Homo sapiens: one gene and its partners. The protein of the gene in region 2 purifies or fractionates together with the protein of the main gene of each other region. This does not show direct contact. Each region holds a gene or a part of one and is shown on either strand. Other genes may lie near its edges. The genes, in order: GARS1, TARS1, FARSB, ITM2B, AARSD1, UBLCP1 and NAA50.

Region 1 (3,500 bases), on a different chromosome or scaffold from region 2:
TAATAGTAATTATTTTTAGGATTATGGGTGATCATTAATTTCTTTACACTTTTTAGATTTTCTGGGACTTCTTTTTATTTTCAGATCAAACCAATAAAATGTTTTTCCTTTTGTATGAGAAAAGATTATTACTTTTCTTTTTGTTTCATACCCAGCTCCTTCTCTTAGTTTGCTCTGATTCTGATTTCAGATTAAACCAGATGTTGTTCTTGCTGTCTCAGTTAAGTAATTTGCTTAAGTCTCACAGCCAGTGAGTGGTGAGGCTGGGATATAAACCTGGCTGTCTGACACCAGACTCATGCTCTTAACAGTTATGCTGTACTGCTTTATAAACCCCACTGGATGCCTGCTCGTCCTTATCTAAGTGCCATTGTGAGGGTTAGGGATCAGAAAATGGAAAGTCACTGGAAAACAGGGCTAAATGAAACAAGAAGCTCCAGAGTCCCAGAGGCTCTTAAGGAGAGGGGAGAACTCCCTTAGAGAGTTTAATACTTTTTGTGTACTTTATATATTTTTTTAATAAAAAAATTTACCGTTGCAGTTAATGCCACACCAATTCTCTTTCCATCCAGAGAAGTAACCACTATCCCAATGTTGTTATTCTCAGGCACGTTTTTGTAATTTTACCTTTCAGTACATAAATGTTAGTTGACATCTGCAGTAAATTATAACCACCAAACTATATGGTTAAGAACATAAGTATACTTAACCAGTCGACATGTATAGGGAATGTCAGATTGCCAGGTTACATGTTTTTAGGCTTTGTTCTTTAATTCCTTTTGTTGTTGTTTTGTGTTGGAGTTTCTGAGCTCATATGAGTTTTATATTTGCTTGCTTTATTACAGACACCCCATGTGATAACATGTGCTTGGAAAGCTTAGTAGTTTTTTCTTTTTTTCTTTTTTTTTTTTTTTTTTTGAGACAGAGTCTTACTCTGTCACCCAGGCTGGAGTGCAGTGGTGCACTCTCAGCTCACTGCAGCCTCTGCCTCCTGGGTTCAAGCGATTCTCCTGCCTCGGCCTCCCAAATAGCTGGGATTACAGATACATGGCACTGCACCCAGCTAATTTTTGTATTTTCATGAAGACAGGATTTCTCCGTGTTAGCCAGGCTGGTCTTGAACTTCTGACCTCAGGTGATCCACCCGCCTTAGCCTCCCAAAGTGCTGGGATTAGAGACACGAACCACTGTGTCTGGCCAAGCTTAGTAGTTTTGATGGTTGAATTTCCCCAAACTCTTTGGATCAAGGGCAAAAAAAAAAAATGAATCTTCTTGAGAAGGACTAACTAGGTATCTACCAAAATAAGCTCTTTACAAACTCTTGTTCTTATTGAAATAACGGGTTCTTAAGAGTTTGTCATAGTTGGGGTTTCTATAAGAAAGCACCACATACAGAGTGGCTTATAAACAATGGACATTGATTTCTCACCGTTCTGGAGGCTGGAATTGAGAGATCAGGGTGCCAGCATCGTCTGATCCTTGTGAGGGCCCCATTCTCAGTCGCATACTGCCAACTTCTTGTTGTATCCTCACATGGTGAAAGAGGGCAAGAGAGCTCTCTGGGGTCCCAAATTCCAGTGATTAGGGCTCCATCCTCATGACCTAATCACCTCCCAAAGGCACCTCCTCCTAATACCATCACATTGGGAGTTAGGATTTCAATATACGAATTTTGTCAAGGACACAAGCATTCAATTCATTGCAGGTTCTTTGAAAATAATTTAAATTTTGCTTTTTAAAAGTATCTTATGTGTGTATTTATAAGAAAGGGAACCTGGCATCAATGTGATCATAATGCTCTTATATAATTTTATTGTGTGACCTGAACTTTACCCACTCTTATACTGAGTTTTCTTTTGTTCAGTGAAGAAAGTGAATTGAATCCAAATGCCCACATTTATGGCCAGCTGAAGTATGTGTTTAGTCAGCCATCTGATATCAAGTTGTGAGAACACTAGGTACTTCATCTAAAGAATAGTGGTTTCTGCCAAATTCATTTTGATTTCTGTTCACAAATTTGAACCAAATTTACAGGCTTTGTCTAGGTTCACATTTAATTTCCATAATTAAATTCCAGAATATGTTAGTTTACCCCACAGACTCAGTATAACAATATAAATCCATCCAGAAAGGAAGACTACTTTGTGTACAGTGTGAATTATATATTTTTTTCTTTCTTTTTTTTTTTTTTTTTAAGATAGGGTCTCACTGTGTTGCCCAGATTGGTCTCAAACTCCTGGCCTCAAGTGATCCTTCCACCTCAGCGTCCCAAGTACCTGGGATTACAGGCATGAGCCATCACACCCAGATCAGTGTGAATTATATTTTATAGGCTTATTAGCTGCCTGATATATGAGGCTATTCCCATTTCAAATATTTATGAAATTTGAATGAAGATTATATCATCGAATTATCATTGAATATATGAAAGGTTTATAATCTGCATGCATTTGTGAATGAACCCAATATAAGTAATAATAAGTAAGTAATGTTTTTATTGATTATATCTTTTTAGGGTTGGATTGAGATTGTTGGATGTGCTGATCGTTCCTGTTATGACCTCTCCTGTCATGCACGAGCCACCAAAGTCCCACTTGTAGCTGAGAAACCTCTGAAAGAACCCATATCCTTTCTGGTCACTCCAAAAACTCAGGATTCACATGTGAACATCTTGCTAATGAATAAGTCCAAGTCTTTACCTTGTTCTATGGATAAATGGAGATGTTTTAGACACTGTAGTAACGCTTGTTTAAACCTATTATTTTACCTATCCCTTTGTTCCTTTCCTATTCTCTGTACTTGTAGTCTGACGTGTGCCCACTCAATGTTTGGCCTTTAAAAGAAGCATATTTAGAAAAATGCTCTGAATATCTTTCAGAACGTTAATAGTTTTTCTCAGCTGTTTCCAAAACGCACTTCACACCTGCACCTACCTACGTGCTCTTTAAATAAAGGGTACCTGGTGAAAGCTTTTTCCATTAAAAGATGAGTGCCATTTGATAGTAGCTGAAATAATAATTTAGCTCACTTGGTCTGAAAATCAGCAAAATAGAAATTTTCTTTCTTTAGTAGGCAGTGAAGTTATGAGCTGATTTCTTAGGGGTAGGTCAGTGACAGGAAATAGATCTTGTTTTGAGCATTTTAGAAATACTTATCAGAAGTTCTTATGCTATGGGTTGGGTCATTGCTGATTAGATAATATCTCTTTTTTCTCACTGTAACTGGAAAAGTTTCTATTGATGGTGTTAATTTTGGATGAGAGTTGTCTGAATGATTTTGTGGACAGGTGTTTCATCTTGCCTTAAAATCAGCATAAACAGGATCTGGAGTACTGATAGAGAGCTGGCATGGTTTTAAGTTGATGATTGATTGTTCTCAGGCTCATTTTCTGAAATACTGAGGCAGTGCTGTAGTTTTGGATTCCTTGACTACTTCATACAAAACAGTCAATGTTGTTCAGTTTGAACCCAGTAAGGGAGCAATTGGTAAGGCATATAAGA
Region 2 (3,500 bases):
CCATTTCAAAAATACACAATCATAAAGAAAAAAACTAGCTTACACAAACCTAGGAACCATTTCCAATTTCATTTTGCTTTTATCCATTTAAAGAGGCTTGGCTTTCTTACATCTCAGAACAAGCCAATTTCAAACAGTATTCAAAAGCACGCTGAAAAACACCACTTACTTTCTCAGCTTGATCCCATACTTCGATATCTCCAAGGAATTTTTCCGGGCGAGTAGAAAGGTTTAGTTTAAAAGAAAATCCAAATACGCTATATACCGTACGTAGAAAATCCAAACAACCTTTTATTTCATCTTCAATCTTCAAATTAAAAAACAAAAAAAGAAACAGTAGTTATTTTCCTTGACTTTCTTGACTCTTCTTTCTAAGTATTTTATTCCCAGGGTCTCATACCTGCTCCATGGCACAGAATATGTGAGCATCATCCTGTTGGAATCTTCGTACCCGGGTGAGTCCTGTGAGTGCTCCAGACAGCTCGTTCCTATGAAGTACCCCAAAATCAGCTAGCCGCAGAGGCAGTTCTCGCCAGGACCTTGGCCGATGATCAAACATAAGGCTGAAGAGAAAAAGAAAAGTCCACGGACACTTAAGAATAAAACTGCTTCTGTAATGCTATATTTAATTACACGAAAGGTTGTCAAAAAGCCACTGATTCTAGCTGTCCATCCAAGCAACATTTCTCAAATTCTGGGCTACATACAGCAGTAAAAGCACTTGCATGAATAAAACAGCAAATAAGTTATAACTCAATGAACCACAGTGAAGAATTAAAAAACGTATTCCAACAACTGAAGAATCTGGGAAAATTAAGAATGAACTTGGTTGGTCCCCTAGCCTATAATACAGCTTCTTCACAAAGATTCTTCTCTCACCTCCTCTGCCCTCCAGGCCTGGCTAGTAGGAGCTGCAGACACTAAGCTACCTGTATCCACAGCTCTCCTGTGTCTTCCCTTAAGCTGTTCTTCACCCAACTTTCAAAGATAGAAAGCAGAGCGGCCTCATGACAAGGAACATTTTCCAAGAATGCTGAGTCATTAGCAGGTTTTGACAGAACAGGTTTCTTTAAAACAACAACACACTAGGTAATTTGTTACACCCCCATATTTCATCTTCCTGTTTTATAGTCTGCCTTGGTCATTGCTATGATCCCAGTACCATTACTGAATGCCCACAGATCTGGAGATCTGGCTGGGCACAGTGGCTCATGCCTGTAATCCCAGCGCTTTGGGAAGCCAAGGTTGAAGGACCGCTTGAGGCCAGGAGTTTGAGACCAGGCTGAGCAACGTGGCAAGACCTCATCTCTACAGAAATAAAATTTTAAAAATTAGCTGGGCATGGTGGCATATACCTGCAGTCCCAGCTGCAGTGAGCTATAATCGCATACCTGCACTCCAGTTGGAAGACCTCTTTAAAAAAAAAAAAAAAAAAAGTGGGGATCTAATCAGGTGCAGAAGATATAATACAAAGATGTTGCGTTTAAATGCTCTTCTGATCACATAATTTGTTTTTAATGAAAATGTTGTTAAAGGAGGGAAGAACCCAGGATGAATTGTAGCATGTGAAAATCTTCAGTAGAAATTCAAAGCTGCCGAATACCAGTGTCCTGGGCAGTTCATGGGTTTCAGGGCAAACAGCTCCTTCTCCACCTCAAAGGAGAACATGTTCTCGCTGTAGTGCTGCCAGTGGCCCGAGGTCATCCAGAGTCGGCTGTTGAAGATGTTTGGGGTGACTACCTCCTGGAATCCTCTTTTCCTATATTCGCTCTGATAGAAAATAAACAGAAACATGTGTAGGCAAATAAATGCTCATACTTCAAGTGGGAGTAAAAACTTAAAGAGTGATTTTATACTCTCTCATGAAAAAGATGGACACATGCCATGATTCAGAAATCCCACTTCTAAGTATATACCAGAGAGAAAACTCTTGGCACATGTACCTAAGGAGGCTTATAAAAGTGATGCTACTGCAGCATGGCTGATAATAAGGGACAATTATACATCAGTGTCCATCAATACAGGGATGAGTGCATTGTGGTAGTTATATAACAAAATAATATGTAGCAAGTGAAAATAAACTTGATTTGCATGTCTCTAAAAATAAATCACAAGGCAGTCTGATACACAATGAGGCTTCCTATATGTAACACACAAATACATAAATAATTTAAGGGTACAAATACATGGGCTAGATATAAGTAACATGGACAAAAAGAATCCATGCCAACTTCAAAACAGTAGTTTCTTCTAGAAAACTGGTATATGATATACCAGTATATGGATATATATACCAGTATATGGAGGTATATGGATCAAAACTGGGTCCTAAAGAGAGGCTTTTTAAACAACTAATTTTTTTTTTAATATCATGAATGAAAAAATCTCAAGCAAATATAGCCCAATGTGAATATTTGTTAAATGTGGGTAGTTAAGTACAAGATATTGGATATACTATTCTCTATAAACTTATACTTGAAACATTTCATAATTTACAAAGGAAAAAAGCAATGTAAAAACCGTTTTTTCAAAGAAAATACAAATAAATGATCAAAGTCAAAGAGGGCACAGAGCTCCTATGTCAAGGACCACAGGTCCCCCTTCAAGCTCACCAGTTTCTATGTGTATATGGGCAAAATCAACTATTAGGGATGATTTATGAGGCCACAGACTTCTACTTTTACTTATCGTCTTATATATTTCTTCTCAAATACAGATTATCTTTCCTTTTAGTAGACCTTATTTAATAAAATGATCACATATCCTAAATCTAAAGAAGAAAGCAATAAATATGACTTACCCTAATGAATTCAATAAGTGCATTATAAATGTAGGCTCCTTTTGGCAGAAAAAAGCAACTTCCAGGGCTGAGTTCATGAAAGAAATATAGTTCTTGGTCCTGGGTAAAAGAAAAGCAAAAGAATGTTTATGTACGTCACGTATACGTGTGTGTATATATACATAAATTTCAGTGTTCTTGAGCTCAGAATATGGTCATGATGTCCCATATTTCAATCAGTGCCACTCCTGAATCAAAGAAACCATGTCAGTGTTTCTGATGTTATAGAATTGCAGCTGATTTACAATTTGGCAGACGTGTAACACATGCCCTGCCTGTTATATTCCTCAATCCAGTCAAGTTTCCCCAACAGTGGCAGGGAATAAGGGTCCCTTCAGTTCTTTAACTATCCACTGCAGTACCTCTCATGGTTCTTAAATTCCTTAAAGCTCCAAGATCTGGATCTTTTTTCATTTTATTTATGTATGTATTTATTTTCTTAGTAAGAGTATCAGGAAGGAGACTGGGAAAAAGACACTGATAATGAAATAGATGATGGTAAAGTTGGCTGACTTTGGGTCATGGTGAAAGAAACACACCCTCCTACCTCCTTGCCAACATCCGCCTCCCCAAGTGCCCAAAAGCCCTCAGGGAAGGGCCCATCAATCATTGCTGGCTGCCTCATAGCTGGAATGTCAGGTAGTCAGGGGTGCAAGGCAGT
Region 3 (3,500 bases), on a different chromosome or scaffold from region 2:
TCTTGTGTCAACATTACAGCTGCCTCATCTATAAAATGGTATTTCACAGCCATTATGGCATGGTACTATTGGAAAGATTTAAATGCTAATGCATAAAATGGACCTGGCATAGTACCCTGAGACACAGTGAGTCTACAATAATTAATAGTTTATTAGCAATTAATAAAATAAGTTCTCTTCCTTATTTTAATATTATATCCTACTGTTTAGCTTTTCAGGGTTCTCACATTACCAAAAATTGAACACAAAACATCATTAGCAGTATATTCTAGCGAAAACTGGTCTTAAGATTCCTGATTCAGACACTAAATTTCAATTTAACATCTATGTACTGAGTACCCACCTTATACCAGGCACTGTACTAGGTACCAGGGTTACAAAGATAAATAAAACACAATTCCTGCCTTAACTACTTCCTCATCTAGTAAAGAAGCCAGATGTGTAAATAAATATGACTGTGTTAAGTACAAGGTACAGGGCTGGCACAAAAGAAGTAATCAGTTTCTCTTATGGTCAGCTAAACCTTCACAGAAAGGATGAGTTCGTTAGGCAGAGATTGTGGGGCGTGAAACAGCATGGCAAATTTGGAAACTCTTAAGTAGTTCAACATGGATGAAACATAAAGTTCATATCAGAAGATATGATGGAACAAGGAGAAAGGGGTCAACTAACAATTTGCCCTCTTTCTTACAGGCAGGCAATGGAGAATTATACTGAAGGGATTCTTCGGCTGGGCAAAAACATGATTAGATCTGCATTCTAAAGACTGCTCGCAGAGTAGAGGATGGATTGGAGCAGGGAGTCTACTGCAATAGTACAGATGCGATAGTGAAGACTTCATTTAAAGCAGCACCAGCAAGAATGAGGAAGAAGGGATTAATATGAAAAACGTTAAAGAGGTGGAATGTATAAGGCTCGATGGCCGAATGATGGGAGGTAGGAATAGGGAGTGTGTAGAAGGAGTCTAAGATGACTCCCCGATCTCTGGTTTGGGGGAAAAAATGGGTGGGGATATCATTAACTAGGGCAGGTAGTAATAGGTACCCAGCCTCCAAGACGGCCTGTTCCATGATCCCTGCCTCCTTGTATTCATGCTCCTGTGTGAACTGAGGTCTGCAGCAATCACCTGAGTGAGTCTGGAAGCAGATTCTCCAGCCCAGCCAAGCCTTGAAATGACAGCAACCCCAGCTGACAGCTAGACTGCAACATGGTGAGACCCAAAGCCAGAACCACCTTCCTAAGCTACTCCCCGATTCCTGTCTCTCAGAAATTTTGTAAAATAATAAAGGCTTGTTTTACACTCCTAAGTACCAGAGTAATTTGTTACGTAGCAACAGACTACTAATACTTTGGAATAATTTGTTACATAGCAATAGATTACTAATACAGACTTTAGTCCCTGGAAGTGGTGTACTGCTGTAACAAAAATGAAAAACATGGGAATGGCTTTGGAACCAAGCAGTGGGCTTTGAGGCGTGTAAATGAAAACCTCAAGAAAGAAGCCTCATAGTCTTTGGTAAGGATGCAGGTGAGGACATGGAGGAAAGTGAGGTAATGTTATCAGAAAGCAGAAGAAGAGGAATCCTGGTTAAGAAGAGGCGGAAGGCTTAGCAACACCATTCCTTGCAGTAATGTGGACTGTAAAAAATCAATGGGGTGATGTAACTAAGATTTCCAACCAGTGTTCACAGTGCCACCTGGGTTTTTCTTGTGCTTATGTGAAAAAAAGAGATAAGCTAAAGGAAAGGCTGTTAAACAAAAATGAGCCAGGATGTTGGGGATTTAAAAAATTCTCATCTTCTCCAGATGTGAAACAATGCTAAAATTAAGAAATAACTTCTGAGCAAAGACCAAATCCAAGGCACTGCCAGGAAAACATGGTCCAAAGATAAAATCAAGGATATGACCATAAAATCTTAAGACCCAGAAAGATCAAAGGCACTAATCATTCCAACAAAGGGTGCTATTAAAAATTATAAAGAATGCACCTCATAAATCCAATTAATCACACAATAGGGCTTAATTAAGAGCACTGTTATCAGCAGAAACTCAATATATTTCAGAGATGTGTAGGTGGTGTGGCTTTTGACTAATAAAATGGAAGCCAGTAACATGCACCAAAGACCTTCCAAGTTTTTAGAAGAAATACATATGCAGAAGCATTGCCAGCTAGAATTGAAAGGGATAGAAATAGGATAAAATAAAGTCTTTGAACTCTCAAAATTCTATTAGCAGTAAGTAGACTGAGAAAACCAACCAGCTGTAAAGCACATGCTTTCTAGGGATCACTCAGAGGGGTGGAAACCAAGAGCCTAGAGGGCAGGGCAGACAGCCATGGAGAATTATTCCAGGCCTTCAGACCTAATCAAGAACATCCAACATTTGCCACTTGATTCCAGAATTGCCATGGACCAATGACTCCTTTGTGTCTCCCATTTCCGCCCCTTTGAAGTGGAAGGGCTACAGGAGTTATCCTATGCCCATCCCACCACTGTATGTTAGGTATATGTGGGGCAGATAAATGGTCTCTCGAGTCTCTCAGGCCAACAGTGTACTAAAGAAGCTATACTGAAGGAACTACACCCAAGGAGCCACATCCACATCTGGTCCTGATTTAGATGATGAGATTCTAGATTCTGAGCTGCTGCTGTAATGGGATGACACTTCTGAGGGCCTTGGGAGGGGGTGAGTATATTTTGCATATGGGAGGAACTGAATCAGTGGAGGTTAGAGGGGAAACGGTGGTAGTCAGCCTCCAAGATGGGCTCCAATAATACCGGCCTCCTGGTATTCACACCCTTGTACTGTTCCCTTCCACATTGTGCTAGGATTGGTCTGTGATCAAGAGAATATGAGAAGGGCTAGTGTATCACTTCTGAGCTGTTATTGAAAACAGGCGTCTATCCTCGGCACTCTCTTACTTACCTACTCTCTCGGACCTCTCCATCTGGGGCAAACAAGCTAACATGTGCTAAGTAGTCCTATGGAGAGGATAAGGTGGGAGGAACTAAAGCCTATGGCCAAAAATCAGCAAGGAACTGAGGTTTGCCAACAACCACTTGAATGAACCTGAAAGCAGTTTCTCCAGACCCAGTTAGGCCTTGAGATGACTACGGATCTGGCAAACACCTTGACTGCAATCTGGTAACAGATCCAGAGCAAAAACCACCCAGCTAAGCCAGTCCCCAATTCCTGACCCTCAGAAACTATATAACAAATGATAGCTGCTTTAAGATGCTAAACTTTGGGATAATTTAGTATGCAGTAATAGATAACTAAGTGGTACAGAACTATTAAAATACGCTGAATCCTAATTATCATATGTTTTATTCCTTTCAGCTGTTATTTCATGGGTTTCTATACAAAGAAAAATCAACAATAAAATCGTGATTACTAATTTCCTCTAACGAAATGACACATCAAGTAACCACACCTTAGGGGTGTATATGATATACACAGAAGGTTCTGCCACTACTGCCAGCTATTACACCACGCCAGAA
Region 4 (3,500 bases), on a different chromosome or scaffold from region 2:
ATGAGTTGCCTCTAAAATTCCTCATGAAGGAGACAATCTTGGAACTTTGAAGAGGACGATCAGAGGATGCCTCATCAATCTTTCTAGACCATCCTGTCTGATCTTAAATTAATGCTAATGGTAATTCAGATGGTTTCCATTATTATCCATTATTAATTATCATTAAGTCAATTTTTAATGTAAAAGGAAATATTCTAACAAATCTTTAAAAAGCTATCAAGATAGCTAAGTTGAAGTTCTAATATTGATTTCCAGTGAAATGTTTGTTTACTTCCTCCTGAAAGCTCAATAAAGCGACAGTAAAGGGATAAAACAAATAAACCTTAAGCCACAAAGAATGAAAATGAATGACAGCAGACAAGTCATGTCAATAAAAATGTTGAAAGCTGAAAGCATAAAAGAAAAAAGAAAAAAAAGATATAAGGAGAAAATCACCAGCCTGTAGACAACCAAAGGGGGAAAAAAAGTCATGTACAAACAAGGAATCAGAATGGCATCACATTAGAAGATAATGGAGCAATGCCATCAAAATGCTGAGAGAAAAATGAATGCTAACCTAGAATTTTACACCCAGATAAATTATCAAATATGAGGATGGAATAACGATTCTGAGACACGTAAGATTTTTTAAAAATTTATCTTTTTCTTCAGATTTATGAAACTGTAGATCTAGCATGTGATAAAGACAAAGGCAATTCTTCCAAGATGATTATGACTCTCAGGACATTTGTATGAGTGCAACCAGTCTGGAATAGAAAACTAATGAATGATGGGCAAGAAATCATCAAAAAAAAAAGAAAGAAAGAAAGAAAGAAACTTGGTAAGTTACCTGGTGAGTTTGAAGACACAGAAAGACAATTATACTGCTGTCAGAGTCTGAGGAATGAATGAGCAGTAAGTATGTAGAAAATTAAGGAACCCTCTCTCCTGCCCCAAGAAGCATGATCAAATTCAGGGAAAATAAAAAGTTGTTATACAAGAATGGAAGTAAAATAAAAGTATACTACAATACTCAAATGTAACTAATGTTTATGTTAATTATAATAAAAAACACTAAATATCAATTTAACCAGAAATTGCTAGAACAGGAGAAGAGATCATGTGTGCAGTGTGTAAATATTCAGAAAAAGCTAAATATTCACCTTCCATGTAGCTATTATCAATAGGTATTATCTAAAACTGCAAAAAATAAAACAAATGAAAACAAACCATGAAACAGCAGTATAAGCAAATATTTAGAATAGATGTTCTGCAAATGTGGTCCAGGAACACACCCGTTCAGGGGGTCCACAAGGTCAAACTTTTTTCATAATAAAACTAAGACTGTGTTAGTTTAAATAATAAAACTGTCATTTTCACTTTCATTCTCTCGCTATGTTTATATACAATAAAAATTGTACAGTGCAATTTTCCAGAAGCTAAGCACCATATCACAACAGACTGAATGAAGAATTTGATAGGAAAATCCGGCTATCTTCTATTAAGCTATTCAATAAAGGGCACTGCCGAATGTAAAACAATGTTACTGTTAGTCTTCTTAAATCTTTTTGGTTATTTGGAAATATATATAACCTACATAAAGCAAAAGCTCTTTGGGATCCTGAACAATTTTTAAGACTATAAAGGAGTTCTCAGAGCAAAATGTTTAACAACCACTGATTTAGAGAAATAGGGAGTTAAAAGAGAAACATGGAGGGCCAGGTGCTATGGCTCAGCCTGTAATCCCAGCACTTTGAGAGGCCGAGGTGGGTGGACCACTTGAGGTCAGGAGTTCCAGACCAGCCTGGTCAACATGGTGAAACCCCGTCTTTACTAAAAATACAAAAATTAGCTGGGAGTGGTGGTGGGCACCTGTAATCCCAGCTACTCGGGAGACTGAGGCAGGAGAATCACTTGAACCTGGGAGGCGGAAGTTGCAGTGAGCCGAGATCATGCCACTGCACTCGAGCCTGGGTGACAGAGCAAGACTCTGCTGCCCGCCGCACCACGCCCTACTGGGGCAAAAAGTGAGAAACATGGAGTTAAGATCGCCATGTATGGTTGGGCAGGTTGTTTCCAGTACAAGGATGCCAGGCCAAGGGAATCAGTAGGTCTAGAAACCAACTGATGCTCTATTCTCCAAACCACCAGAGAGGGGATCTTTTTCTAAATTGCACAAAGGCAGAAGAGGGTCTAGTGGTCACCATGGTAATAAAAGACCATAAGAAGCTAATAAGTGAATATGATTGCTTTGAATTAATCTATGGGGAGAAAAATTAGAATAGTGGTTACCTCTAAGGAGAACAAATTGTAAAAGGACACAAGATAACTTTCTGAGTTGATAACAATGTTCAGCTTGATTGGGAGTTAGAGCCCAGGTATACAGACTTAAAATTATCTAACTGTACACTCATGATCTATGCATTTTACTGTATACAATGATGCTACAATTTTTTTAAAGTATGTTCCTCTGACATAGGGCAGGACTATATATTTGCATATTAAAATTTAGTATTACTTTGGTAAAACTCAAATTCTATTAACACCTATTATGTAATGAATAAATAACATTTTTAAATGAAATCGGTACAGCTACTGAATCCTAAGGGTTTTTATGTTGCAGGAATCAATCTTTACCAGAATGCCTTGCTGTGAAAAAAGTACCAACAATATTGTTACTGACATGTGAGGCAGGGATAAGCAGTAACAGTAATATAAGAAGTAATATTCCAAAACAAGAATGATGAGGAGAGAAAACTGGGACTTTAATAATAGTAGTTGATCAAGAGGTCAGGAGTTCGAGACCAACCGGGCCAACATGGTGAAACCCCGTCTCTATTAAAAATACAAAAAATTAGCCAGGCATAGTGGCAGGTGCCTGTAATCCCAGCTACTTGGGAAGCTGAGGCAGGAGAATCACTTGAACCCGGGAGGCAGAGGCTGCAGTGAGCCAAGATCACACCATTGCATTCCTGCCTGGGTGACAGGGCAAGACTGTTTCTCAACAAAAAAATAAATAAAAATAACAGTAGCTGAAATCTACTAATTTTTAACTCTGTTCCAGGCATTGTGCTATTATTGTTACAGATTATTATTTTCCCTATTTTGCTGATGAAAAAACTGAGACACAGAGAACTGAAGTAACTTACCCAAGGTATCAAAGTAAGTGATAGAGACAAAATTTAAATCTTTTGAAGAATGACTGTATAACCTGAATTCTGCTAGTGCTGCTGCTTCCTGAATAGCAGCAGCCCCTCCCCAACAATTCAGTGAGGGTACTGGGCAAAAAGGAGAAATATCATTCCTTTGATATTTTTCCCAACCATTAAAAAATATAAAAATCATTCTTACCCCATGGGCTACAGAAAAACAGCAGGCAGGCAGTATTTGAAGATATAGGCTATAATTTGCCAGTCCTGCGTTCCACTTTAAAGGAGATTATAAAATAGTGGCCCATGCCTTCAGTGTTTTGGGCTAAAATTGTTGTATAAATTAAAATAGTACTGATTTTTAGCTTGCCT
Region 5 (3,500 bases), on a different chromosome or scaffold from region 2:
CCTTGATAGTTCCTCCTCTTTCTCCTTTTCTTCCTCCTCCTCTTCCTCTTCTTTCTCCTCATCATCACTCTTGTCAATCAGGGATGCTGCTGTATCTCTTATGTCAAGCCCTGTGCCTTGCATTTGGTAGGTACTCAATAAATACTTGTTGAATGGATGAATGCTGCATATTGGAACTTAAGTTCACTGGGCACAGTGGCTCACACCTGTAATCCCAGCATTTTGGGAGGCCAAGGCAGGTGGATCACTTGAGGTCAAGAGTTCAAGACCAGCTTGGCCAACGTGGTGAAACCCCATCTCTACTAAAAGTAGAAAAATTAGCCGGGCACGGTGATGCACGTCTATAATCCCAGCAACTCAGGAGGCTGAGGCACGAGAATTGCTTGATCCTGGGAGGCGGAGGCTGCAGTGAGCCCCTGCACTCCAGCCTGGGCAACAGAATGAGACTGTCTCAAAAAAAAAAAAAAAAAAAAAAAAAGGAAGTTAAGTTCAAGTCCAGCCCCTTATAAGTTACATTGCCATGGCAAGTTATTTGATCTCTCTAGGCTTCAGTTTCCTCATCTGTGAAATGGTATCATAAGGCCTCTTGCAGAATTCTCATTGTGATTTTCAATAAAGTATCTAAAGTGTATTACCCAGTGCTTAGCAGGTCTTCAACAAGGAGAATTTCTGTGCTTTTATCATTGTAGCTCATATTTTATCATTGTGGGAGTATGTAGGCTTCTCACTTTTCTCCTGTCTCTGGCTCTCTTTGCTTAGGGCAGCATCTCATCACGGCAGTTGCTGACCATCTATTTAAGCTGAAGACAACATCATGGTGAGTGGGAGGCATAAGACTAACTGTAGGCAGGCCCATCCCAGCACTGGGAGGGAGGCGGAGGTGGGAGAATTGCTTGAGCCGGGGAGATTAAGGCTGTGGTGAGCTGTGATTGCCACCAAATGGCAGCATGGGTGACAGCGAGCTTGTCTTAAAAAAAAAAAAAAAAAAGGCCAGGCGCAGTGGCTCACGCTTGTAATCCCAGCACTTTGGGAGGCCGAGGCGGGCGGATCACGAGGTCAGGAGATCGAGACCATCCTGGCTAACACGGTGAAACCCCGTCTCTACTAAAAATACAAAAAATTAGCCGGGCGTGGTGGCGGGCGCCTGTAGTCCCAGCTACTCGGGAGGCTGAGGCAGGTGAATGGCGTGAACCCGGGAGGCGGAGCTTGCAGTGAGCCGAGATCGCGCCACTGCACTCCAGCCTGGGCGACAGAGCGAGACTCCGTCTCAAAAAAAAAAAAAAAAAAAAAAAAAGTGGTGAGAGGGTATGCTTGTTCCAGTTTTTAGAGGAAAAGCTTTCAGCTTTTTCTTGTTCAGTAAGATATGTTATCTGTGGCCACTGTACTTCTGACAGGGAGTTAGGGAGATTTCGGAGTGCGATTGAGCTGGACACCCCCTCTATGACTGCAGAGCAAGTAGCTGCCATTGAGCAGAGCGTCAATGAAAAAATCAGAGATCGGCTGCCTGTGAATGTCCGAGAACTGAGCCTGGATGATCCTGAGGTGGAGCAGGTAAGGGTAGAGCCAGAGGGATGGTTTCTGCGGAATGATTCCTCATCAGATTCAGACAGTCCCTCCCCTCTCCTTGAGTCCAGGTGAGTGGCCGGGGTTTGCCTGATGATCATGCTGGGCCCATTCGGGTTGTTAACATCGAGGGCGTTGATTCCAACATGTGCTGTGGGACCCATGTGAGCAATCTCAGTGACCTTCAGGTAAGTGAGGAACGGCTGTGGAGTGGCTGAGAAGAGGGATTGGGGGAGAGGGGATCACATGGGGCTGGGAGTGGGAGAGGGGGATAATCGAGGAGTCCTAAGTGAAATCTCCCCTTCACTGTTTCAGAGCTGAGGAACAGATAGGTTTCTCCTGCCTTCAGGTTCTAGGATCCGCTGTGGTTTATGCATGTGCACACGTGTGTGTGTGTGTTACCCCCTTGCCTCATGTAGGTCATTAAGATTCTGGGCACTGAGAAGGGGAAAAAGAACAGAACCAACCTGATATTTCTGTCTGGGAACCGGGTGCTGAAGTGGATGGAGAGAAGTCATGGAACTGAAAAAGCACTGACTGCTCTGCTTAAGTATGCCTGTTTCAGTACCTTCGATTACCTCCCATTTCTGAGATTTTCGACATAATCTCTTACCTCTGGGAGATAAGATGCAATCGTAAATGATAAAGTGCGGCCAGGCGTGGTGGCCCACATCTGTAATCCCAGCACTTTGGGAGGCCGAGGTGGGCGGATCACGAGGTCAGGAGATCAAGACCTTCCTGGCTAACACCGTGAAACCCCGTCTCTACTAAAAATACAAAAAGAACTTAGCCAGGCATGGTGGTGGGCGCCTGTAGTCCCAGCTACTCGAGAGGCTGAGGCAGGAGAATGGCGTGAACCCGGGAGGTGGAGCTTGCAGTGAGCCAAGATCGTTCCACTGCACTCCAGCCTGGGCGATAGAGCAAGACTCTGTCTCAAAAAAAAAAAAAAAAAAAAGATCAAGTGCTTTGGATAGTAAATCAGAACCACGAAAAGTGGTTAATTCCTTTGTATGTTTTCTCCCAGTTGCCTAAGAGACCTCCTCAGAATATCTCCTGGTCCCTGACTGCAGGGAGGCACCATAGCAAGAAGGAAATTATTGATTTATGTCCCCAACATCAGAAACGACTGGGAAGCTGCGCAGGTCTCCTCTGACCTTTCTCTTTCAGGTGTGGAGCAGAGGATCATGTGGAAGCAGTGAAAAAGCTCCAGAACTCCACCAAGATCCTGCAGAAGGTGATTTATTCCATGGAGGGTAGAGAGGGCATGGGCCCTGCCTAGGATAGGCTCTGCAGACTTGGTCTTCTGCCTAAACAGATGTGTAGTTTGTCAAAGTGGGAGTGAGGGGAGAATGAGGTGGAGGGAAGCTGATACTCTCTATTGTTATCCTTTCCATTTATCTACTGAGTTACCATATCCATTTCAGAATAACCTGAATCTGCTCAGAGACCTGGCTGTGCACATTGCCCATAGCCTCAGGAACAGTCCAGACTGGGGAGGTGTGGTCATATTACACAGGTGAGAAATTAGGAGCTGGACACAAGGAAGGGGAACTGTGTTGGGCTTAGGGCTCAGTGTCTTCTCTATATGCAATGTACAGTGGGAGGTGGATTGCTCACTGGTATTCTCAAGGTTGAGTAGATCCTAAGAAATATGTTACTGGCCGGGCGCGGTGGCTCACGCCTGTAATCCCAGCACTTTGGGAGGCTGAGGCGGGTGGATCACAAGGTCAGGAGTTCGAAACCAGCCTGGCCAGCATGGTGAAACCCCTTCTCTACTAAAAGTACAAAAATTAGCTAGGCATGGTAGTACGCGCCTGTAGTCCCAGCTACTCAGGAGGCTGAGGCAGGAGAATCACTTGAACCCGGGAGGCAGAGGTTGTGGTGAGTGGAGATCACGCCACAGCACTCCGGCCTGGACCAACAGAGTGAGACCCCAT
Region 6 (3,500 bases), about 130 Mb from region 2:
CAGATCTTTAATCTTAATCTTAACCTTTAATCTTTAACCTTAAAAGAGGTTTTCATGAAGTGTTATCTTGGGTAGATTAATTTTATAAAAAAGAGGTTTTCAATAAAAGACACACAAGGACAGCCTGTGGAGTGTCTAAATCTACCTCTGGAATTAGAATTTAGGGGATGGGGACATACGTATTTTTAGGAATTCCTTCAGTGGGTCTACTGAGTACAGTCTTTTAAAAACCCTACTGTAAAGTAACATAAAGAACTAGACATTTACAATAACATCTCTCCCTGCATCAAGAGATGAATGGAGCTCAAATGTTGGTTAGGAAAACAAAGTTTCTTTTAAACAAACATGAAACTAATGATTGTATTTTTTTTTTTAAAGTTAAACGTCTCCTCCAAAATTATTCCTTGACCATCATGGGATCACCTCCTTGCAAGAACAGGTAATAACCATTCGTTTCACAAACAATTAGGTTTACATCAACCACATTTCTTCTCAAGACTCAAGAATACATTTTTGTACCTTTACCTGGTGCAGTACATATTAAGAAAAGCACTTCTCTCCAAGCCTTAAACAGAAACCATTAAGGACAACATAACCACTTTTCTTCCAAGTCAACAGTTTTTATACTTATGGCAATTCACTACCTAGATTAGTATTCTTTCCCTAAAATATCCTCATTGTAAACAAAAACTCAAATCAACAGTCTGTAAGAAAGGTTTAAAAAATGTACTTTTAAGTTTTTCTCTCTTGTCTTTTAAAACTACCAAGGACCCAGCTAGTAGAAAAGTTTAGGACTGAGAATGAAAACATCTCAGTGTCAGGACTGCCACTTCGAATGGAGACTCCATGTGCAATAGTGCCATAGTATAGAGCTATCTTTTCCATTTTCATATTGCGCCAACATGTAATCAACTATGGGTACCAGAAACTTTTAAATTTCAAATTTCACTCTTACCAATTTTATACTGTTACCAGGATGAAATGTCACATAAGACTGCATGCAGTTGCATGCTAAGATTGTCACTGACCTAGGAACCAAGTCACTAGAGTCTAACCCAAATTCTGTCATTAGCCAGTTACATATACAATCTTGGGCAAGTCAGGAACTTCTTCAACCTCAGACTGTTTCCAAAGTTAAGAAGGTAGGCAAGAGATGACTGTGGTTCCTTCTAGCTCTGGCAATGTCTAATTCTAAGATCTGTACTTGCCGTCTAGGAATTTTCAAAAACGTCTTTAGTTTCAGTTTAAAAAGAAAAAACAAAGTACCCTTACTGCCATTTCTCAAGCTAACCAGAATGTTTAAAATGCCAAGATTTGTATACCTAAAAAAATAACTAATGATTTCACTTTGGATGCTAAAAGTCAATGTTGGGAAGCCCATGTTGCTCCCACAGAGCTAATTAAAAATAAAACACTTGGGCCGGGCGCAGTGGCTCATGCCTGTAATCCCAGCACTTGTGGGAGGTCGAGGTGGGCAGATCACGAGGACAGGAGCCTGAGATCAGCCTGGTCAACATGGTGAAACCCTGTCTCTACTAAAAATACAAAAATTAGCTGGGTGTGGTGGTGCGTGCCTGTAATCCTAGCTACTCAGGAGGCTGAGGCAGGAGAATCACTTGAACCCAGGAGGTGGAGATTGCAGCGAGCCGAGATCGCACCACCACACTCTAGCCTGGGCGACAGAGTGAGATCCCGTCTCAAAAATAAATAAATAAATAAACAAACAAATACTTGGATGAACTAGCTAACTATGGAGACATCAATGCAAAAAAGACAAAGTTCAATTTCTATATGAATTATTCTTAAACTTTTCTCGCCTATGACATAAGAATACAGTACTTCCAAAAATATATGAAATTCAACAGTGCTTACTACAAAAGTTCTACCACACAGCCCAGATTACATGAGCACATAACAAGTAAAAGTATGTCTTACCTTTAGTCCATTCTGTGGGTTCATTAGAAAATTTCTCCCTATGTCATCAAACATAATGGTGTTTTTCTTGCTGTAAAACTCCGAAAACTTTCCCCATATAACACCAAGAGGCTTTACCTTAGAATAAAAGTTTACATTTAACTCAAATTTTATCAATATTTCATCCTGTCTTAAAAGCAGGAATACTGCAAACTGCCCTGCAGAACAATGCCAAAGTGTTCCTTTCCCCCTGTAAGACAGGTGTGAGCTAATCATTAAATGCAACCCACTTTAAAGCACAATGCATTTTGCAATATTAAAACTTCTGAAAGGTTTGTTCATGTCCAACTGAACTAAACCCATTATAAAACTTTCCATAATTTTAACGTGAAGATTTTGGGTAAAATAAATAAATTATTTAATTTTTTAAAAATCCAAAGTAATTGTTTAGATGTCTGCTATGCAGTCACATGACTTCCTTGGTTAACACATTCCTTCTCAGAGCTTGGGAGTCACATGGAGTCTGCTTTCAAAACTAGAACACCCTAGTCAAAAAAAAACTGTATTTGGCTTTTTCAATTAATAATTTGAATATTTTATAGAGGAAAAACTCGTTTTGTCTTTAACTCAGTGGCACAGGTGCATAATTTCTAGGGAATTTGATTGCTTAACTTCGGAAGCACCATATTTTACAAATTCTTACTCTTATTTCTGAATTCTTAAACTGAAGCTTCAAATAAATAATTTCTTATATAGTCTTACCTGTTGGTATTTGTGTAAAGTCTCTGTAAGACCACACAGGAAATAACACTGATTGTGGCTAGGTACCAGGTGAAAGATGACTTTTCATTATGTACTTTACTATTTTTTTAGTCATGCAAATGTATTACACATTCAGAAAATTTTTTAAATTTCTAGAAAATTACTTTTGCTGAAGACAGAAGTCTTACGGTATTATGAGAACAGAATGTAATAATAAATATATGAGATTAAGTGGTAAGAAATAAATAGTGATAAAAGTTGTAACTTAAAAATTTTTTTCCTCCTATAATTTAATTTGGAGAAAGCTTTTTCCTTCCTATTGTCTTGCCTATTACAAAAAATGTTAATGAAATATTTTAATTTACTAAAATTTTACTTTCCTGATTTTTTTTTGCTACTGATCTTGTTTACTACCGAAATAGAAACCGCCCCCTACTCCCCCCACGAAATGAAGACAAATATATAAGAATTAATACAATAAGCCATATTTTGTGGATTTTTAGCTAACAAAAGCCTCAAGAAATATGACAACAGAGGTCATTTTTTATGACATCCAGAATAAAAATCCTACATCCTCTTAAAAAGTGCTGTCATTTGTTAATTAGGTCAAGCACCTATGTTCCCCAAAACACAAACTACTTTGCTCTCAATTAGAAAAGTAATATTGCTAACTACAGAAAAAAAACATGAAAATACTGAAAAGCATAAAGGAAAATTTTAAATCAATAATCTAGTCAGTACCAAGGGCAACAACTCAATATTCTGATACATTGACTCCAGGCATTTTTATAAACAAGAGCAGCCTCAGAGAGTTGACAGGTTCT
Region 7 (3,500 bases), on a different chromosome or scaffold from region 2:
ACAAGTTGAAACATTTAGAAATATCTACCATCTGGGATGGGAAGTAGATTCTAAGGGAAAAGATCCTGTTTTATACAACTTTGGCTTTTTTATGGGTTTAGCACAGGACCGTCCAACAGATATACAAGTGACATACAAAATTTTAAAATGTTTAATATCTTGGGAAGACTTCCTTGATATAACAAAAAAAAGTTTAGTATTCACATTTACAAGGGGAAGAAATCATTTCAACATGTAATCAAAATAAAACTTATTTTACCTTAAAAACTTTTTCATTCAAGTTTAGTATCCACATTTACAAGAGGGAGAAATCATTTAAACATGTAGTCAAAATAAAACTTATTTTCCCTTAGAAGTTTTTTTTCATTCAAGTTTAGCATCCACATTTACAAGGGGAAGAAATCATTTCAACATGTAGTCAAAATAAAACTTATTTTACCTTAAAAATTTTTTTTATTCCAAGTCTTTAAAATCCAGTTTACTACACTTACAGCATGGCCCAATTCAACTACTCATTTTCCTTAGAAATATTTGATCTGTATTTACATTTCACAAAATCTGCAGTAGATCCACATATCTAAGTTGTTTCAAACATAAAAACGGACCAATAACTGTGAGTTTTTTCTTTTTGAGACAGGGTCTCCCTCTGTCACCCAGGCTAGAGTGCAGTGACATTATCATGCCTCGATGCAGTGCAGCTTCAACCTCCTAAGCTCAAGTGATTTTCCCAACTTGACTTCCCAAGTAGCTGGGACTACAGGCACACACCACCATACCCCAGCTAATTATGATTACTATTTTTTTGTAGAGATGAGGTCTCACTATGTTATAGCCCAGGCTGGTCTTGAACTCCTGGGCTCAAGTGATCCTCCTGCTTTGGCTTCCCAAAGTGTCGGGATTACGAGTGTGAGCCACAGTACCCAGCTGAGAATCCGAGCTTTCACACTTTAAAATTTAAAATTTAGTTCTGTCATACAAGGCACATTTTTTCTTTTTTTTTTTTTAAAGGTCACTTTTAATTGAGACCCAATGACAAAAGGTGGACAATAATCAATTTGGTAAAACAAATTAACAGTACCCTTTAAAGCTTCTGTTTCTATGTTTACTAATGGCTTCCCCACATAGGCAATATCATCTAGACTATGCTAGAGTTTTCAATGACTCCATCATAAGGACTAGCGATGGTAACAGAAGCTTTATCACTTTGAACTTTACCGATGTTATCAAACTGAGACACTGTATCTCCTTCTTTTACATAACATTAACAGTTACTTTTCTAATCCCTTCTTCAGTGTCTGAGAATCTGAACTGAACAAGCTGTCCACATACAGCATTAATTGTTTTCAGAAAGTTATGTGGATGACTATACTTGAATGAAGGATAATCAAAGAAACACACATAATTTGGCTTCAAAACATGAACATTACTACATGTTGGAAAACAGTGAAACAAATCAGCTGCCCAGCATTCCTGCTCCAGGTCCTCAGTACACAGACTGCAGACATCTTACCCGGGAAATGGCAACTGTGCCACAGACCACAAGGTACATTTCAACTGCTCAATCGCCAACTGTAGCTAGTCACGACTGTACTAGACAGAACAATAAAATTGTGCCATTAAGTTAGGCATTGAATAGACTTAAATATAGCTCTCACGTTCACGATGGGAAGAATGTGTCTACTGGTTACTACTGGTATTCTATTGGTTACTGCAGGCTGCATTTAAAAAAAGATGAAGGCCAATCATTTGAATAATTGAGAAAGAGTATCGCTTCAGATATCACACAGCTGAAAGCCATAAGCAATACCTGGAAGAAAAAATTAGGAGTCCCAGTAACACTTCCCACTCTACTGATCACATGTGCAATAATATTCACACAACAGAAGTAAGGATCTTTGAAATTATGATAAACAGGGAATATATCTTGATTCAATAAGATGAGTGCTTGGACTACTAAGTGACTTTAAAAAATCTTTTCCAACTCAGAAAGTATTGATTATTCTTTGTTTAGAGCTTTCCTAAGAGTTGTCTGCAATTTCAGGAAGAAATTACACCACTAATGGCAACACAACATGAGTCAACAATGCACACAACTGTATAGGCAGCAGACATACTTTCTAAATTACACGATGATTCTATTTACAGATAGATGCAAACACTTGATCTTATGCTTTATGGCATAGTTGTGCCACATCATTAAATACTGAAATAAATTTTATTATAAATTACTTCCCTTTTATTTTTCTTTTATATTAGAGAGAACAGTACATTGATTTTTTAAAAAAACTTATGGTGTAAGGTTATATTTTATATGAATTCATCTCAACACAGCAAGGGCACATTACAAAGTATTTGTTAAAATTCACTATCTCAATCAACAAACCACAAATTGTTTCACAGAAGGAAGAAGTATAAACTGTAGGTTTATAAAAGGTGTCAAATGCTACGTCAGCCTGACTAGCTTTTGGTTTTGCTGAAAAACAAAACAGCAATAAACCTTTAAAAAAAGTTTTGTTTTGTTTTGTTTTTTAAGACCAGTTTTCGCTCTGTTGCCCAGGCTGAAATATAGTGACAAGATCATGGCTCTCTGCAGCCTTGAACTCCTGGGCTCAAGTGATCCTCCTGCCTCAGCCTCCCAAGTAGCTGGAACTACAGACTTGCACCAGCATGCCTGGCTTTTTTTTTTTTTTTTTTGAGACAGAGTCTCACTCTGTCGCCCAGGCAGGAATGCAGTGGCACGATCTCAGCTCACTACAACCTCCACCTGCCAGGTTCAGGTGATTCTCCTGGCTGCTTTATTGTTTGTAGAGACAAGGTCTCACTATGCTGAGATGCAAAAAGCATTCCTTTTGCCCCTTCCCAGTCCATATGCTGTCAGAGGTAACCACTGTTCGGAGTTTTTAAAGTTTTGTTTCTGACTGCAGAATCTTACATTTTAATTTTATTTGGTAAAATGGCTCCCTTTACTATTCCAATTAGTAGTCAACATTGTTCCATATTTATATTACTGCTACCTACTTTCCCATCTTAGTCACGTATTCACATTTTGTTAAAGACATTTTTTATTAGAACTAATTTGCACCTCTTTACTACAATTGAAGGCTAAATGATTTGGTTTTATTATACTTTCCATTACACTGCCTAATTACATTGCCACCTCAGTCATGGTTATCTGTGGCATACCTTCTTGCTTGAAATCGCCTTCCCTAGAGAAGAACAGATAAAAATATCACCCACAAATTCAAACTACAATGTCCCTGGTTCATAAAAACAGCCAACCTCAAAAGTAAGCAACATTTCCTAGTATATCTCAAACTTCTACATGTGCATATAAATTACATTCAGTAGTTAATAACCGGAAATTTATCTTCTATGGAGGAAAGACATGCCAATACAATGGAAAGTCCTACTGCTACTACTAATAAAAATACTCATGGTAAAAATATGAAGAAAAACCAGCTAAGTTTTAAGTTTCAATATGATAGGCAACATAGGCAACA

What was found.
Region 1: the proteins of TARS1 (region 2) and GARS1 fractionate together in Homo sapiens (co-fractionation; one large-scale study listed by BioGRID). This does not show direct contact.
Region 3: the proteins of TARS1 (region 2) and FARSB fractionate together in Homo sapiens (co-fractionation; one large-scale study listed by BioGRID). This does not show direct contact.
Region 4: the proteins of TARS1 (region 2) and ITM2B purify together in Homo sapiens (co-immunoprecipitation; one large-scale study listed by IntAct). This does not show direct contact.
Region 5: the proteins of TARS1 (region 2) and AARSD1 fractionate together in Homo sapiens (co-fractionation; one large-scale study listed by BioGRID). This does not show direct contact.
Region 6: the proteins of TARS1 (region 2) and UBLCP1 fractionate together in Homo sapiens (co-fractionation; one large-scale study listed by BioGRID). This does not show direct contact.
Region 7: the proteins of TARS1 (region 2) and NAA50 fractionate together in Homo sapiens (co-fractionation; one large-scale study listed by BioGRID). This does not show direct contact.

What each region holds. Positions count from the first base shown.
Region 1 is NC_000007.14:30,618,878-30,622,377, forward strand, and holds part of GARS1 (glycine--tRNA ligase isoform 1 precursor), read left to right. Parts: intron 1-2,515; coding exon 2,516-2,623; intron 2,624-3,439; coding exon 3,440-3,500. UniProt on the Homo sapiens protein: Catalyzes the ATP-dependent ligation of glycine to the 3'-end of its cognate tRNA, via the formation of an aminoacyl-adenylate intermediate (Gly-AMP).
Region 2 is NC_000005.10:33,457,965-33,461,464, reverse strand, and holds part of TARS1 (threonine--tRNA ligase 1, cytoplasmic), read right to left. Parts: intron 2,900-3,500; coding exon 2,801-2,899; intron 1,771-2,800; coding exon 1,604-1,770; intron 564-1,603; coding exon 401-563; intron 308-400; coding exon 170-307; intron 1-169. UniProt on the Homo sapiens protein: Catalyzes the attachment of threonine to tRNA(Thr) in a two-step reaction: threonine is first activated by ATP to form Thr-AMP and then transferred to the acceptor end of tRNA(Thr).
Region 3 is NC_000002.12:222,649,593-222,653,092, forward strand, and holds part of FARSB (phenylalanine--tRNA ligase beta subunit), read right to left. Parts: intron 1,308-3,500; exon of another isoform or gene 694-1,307; intron 1-693.
Region 4 is NC_000013.11:48,239,706-48,243,205, reverse strand, and holds part of ITM2B (integral membrane protein 2B), read right to left. Parts: intron 1-3,500. UniProt on the Homo sapiens protein: Plays a regulatory role in the processing of the amyloid-beta A4 precursor protein (APP) and acts as an inhibitor of the amyloid-beta peptide aggregation and fibrils deposition. Plays a role in the induction of neurite outgrowth.
Region 5 is NC_000017.11:42,954,455-42,957,954, reverse strand, and holds part of AARSD1 (alanyl-tRNA editing protein Aarsd1), read left to right. Parts: intron 1-759; coding exon 760-817; intron 818-1,394; coding exon 1,395-1,551; intron 1,552-1,634; coding exon 1,635-1,751; intron 1,752-1,982; coding exon 1,983-2,113; intron 2,114-2,730; coding exon 2,731-2,797; intron 2,798-2,987; coding exon 2,988-3,079; intron 3,080-3,500. Other genes in the region: PTGES3L-AARSD1 protein, read left to right, coding at 760-817, 1,395-1,551, 1,635-1,751, 1,983-2,113, 2,731-2,797, 2,988-3,079. UniProt on the Homo sapiens protein: Functions in trans to edit the amino acid moiety from incorrectly charged tRNA(Ala).
Region 6 is NC_000005.10:159,276,790-159,280,289, reverse strand, and holds part of UBLCP1 (ubiquitin-like domain-containing CTD phosphatase 1), read right to left. Parts: intron 2,053-3,500; coding exon 1,936-2,052; intron 1-1,935. UniProt on the Homo sapiens protein: Dephosphorylates 26S nuclear proteasomes, thereby decreasing their proteolytic activity. Recruited to the 19S regulatory particle of the 26S proteasome through its interaction with 19S component PSMD2/RPN1.
Region 7 is NC_000003.12:113,739,750-113,743,249, forward strand, and holds part of NAA50 (N-alpha-acetyltransferase 50), read right to left. Parts: intron 1-3,500. UniProt on the Homo sapiens protein: N-alpha-acetyltransferase that acetylates the N-terminus of proteins that retain their initiating methionine. Has a broad substrate specificity: able to acetylate the initiator methionine of most peptides, except for those with a proline in second position.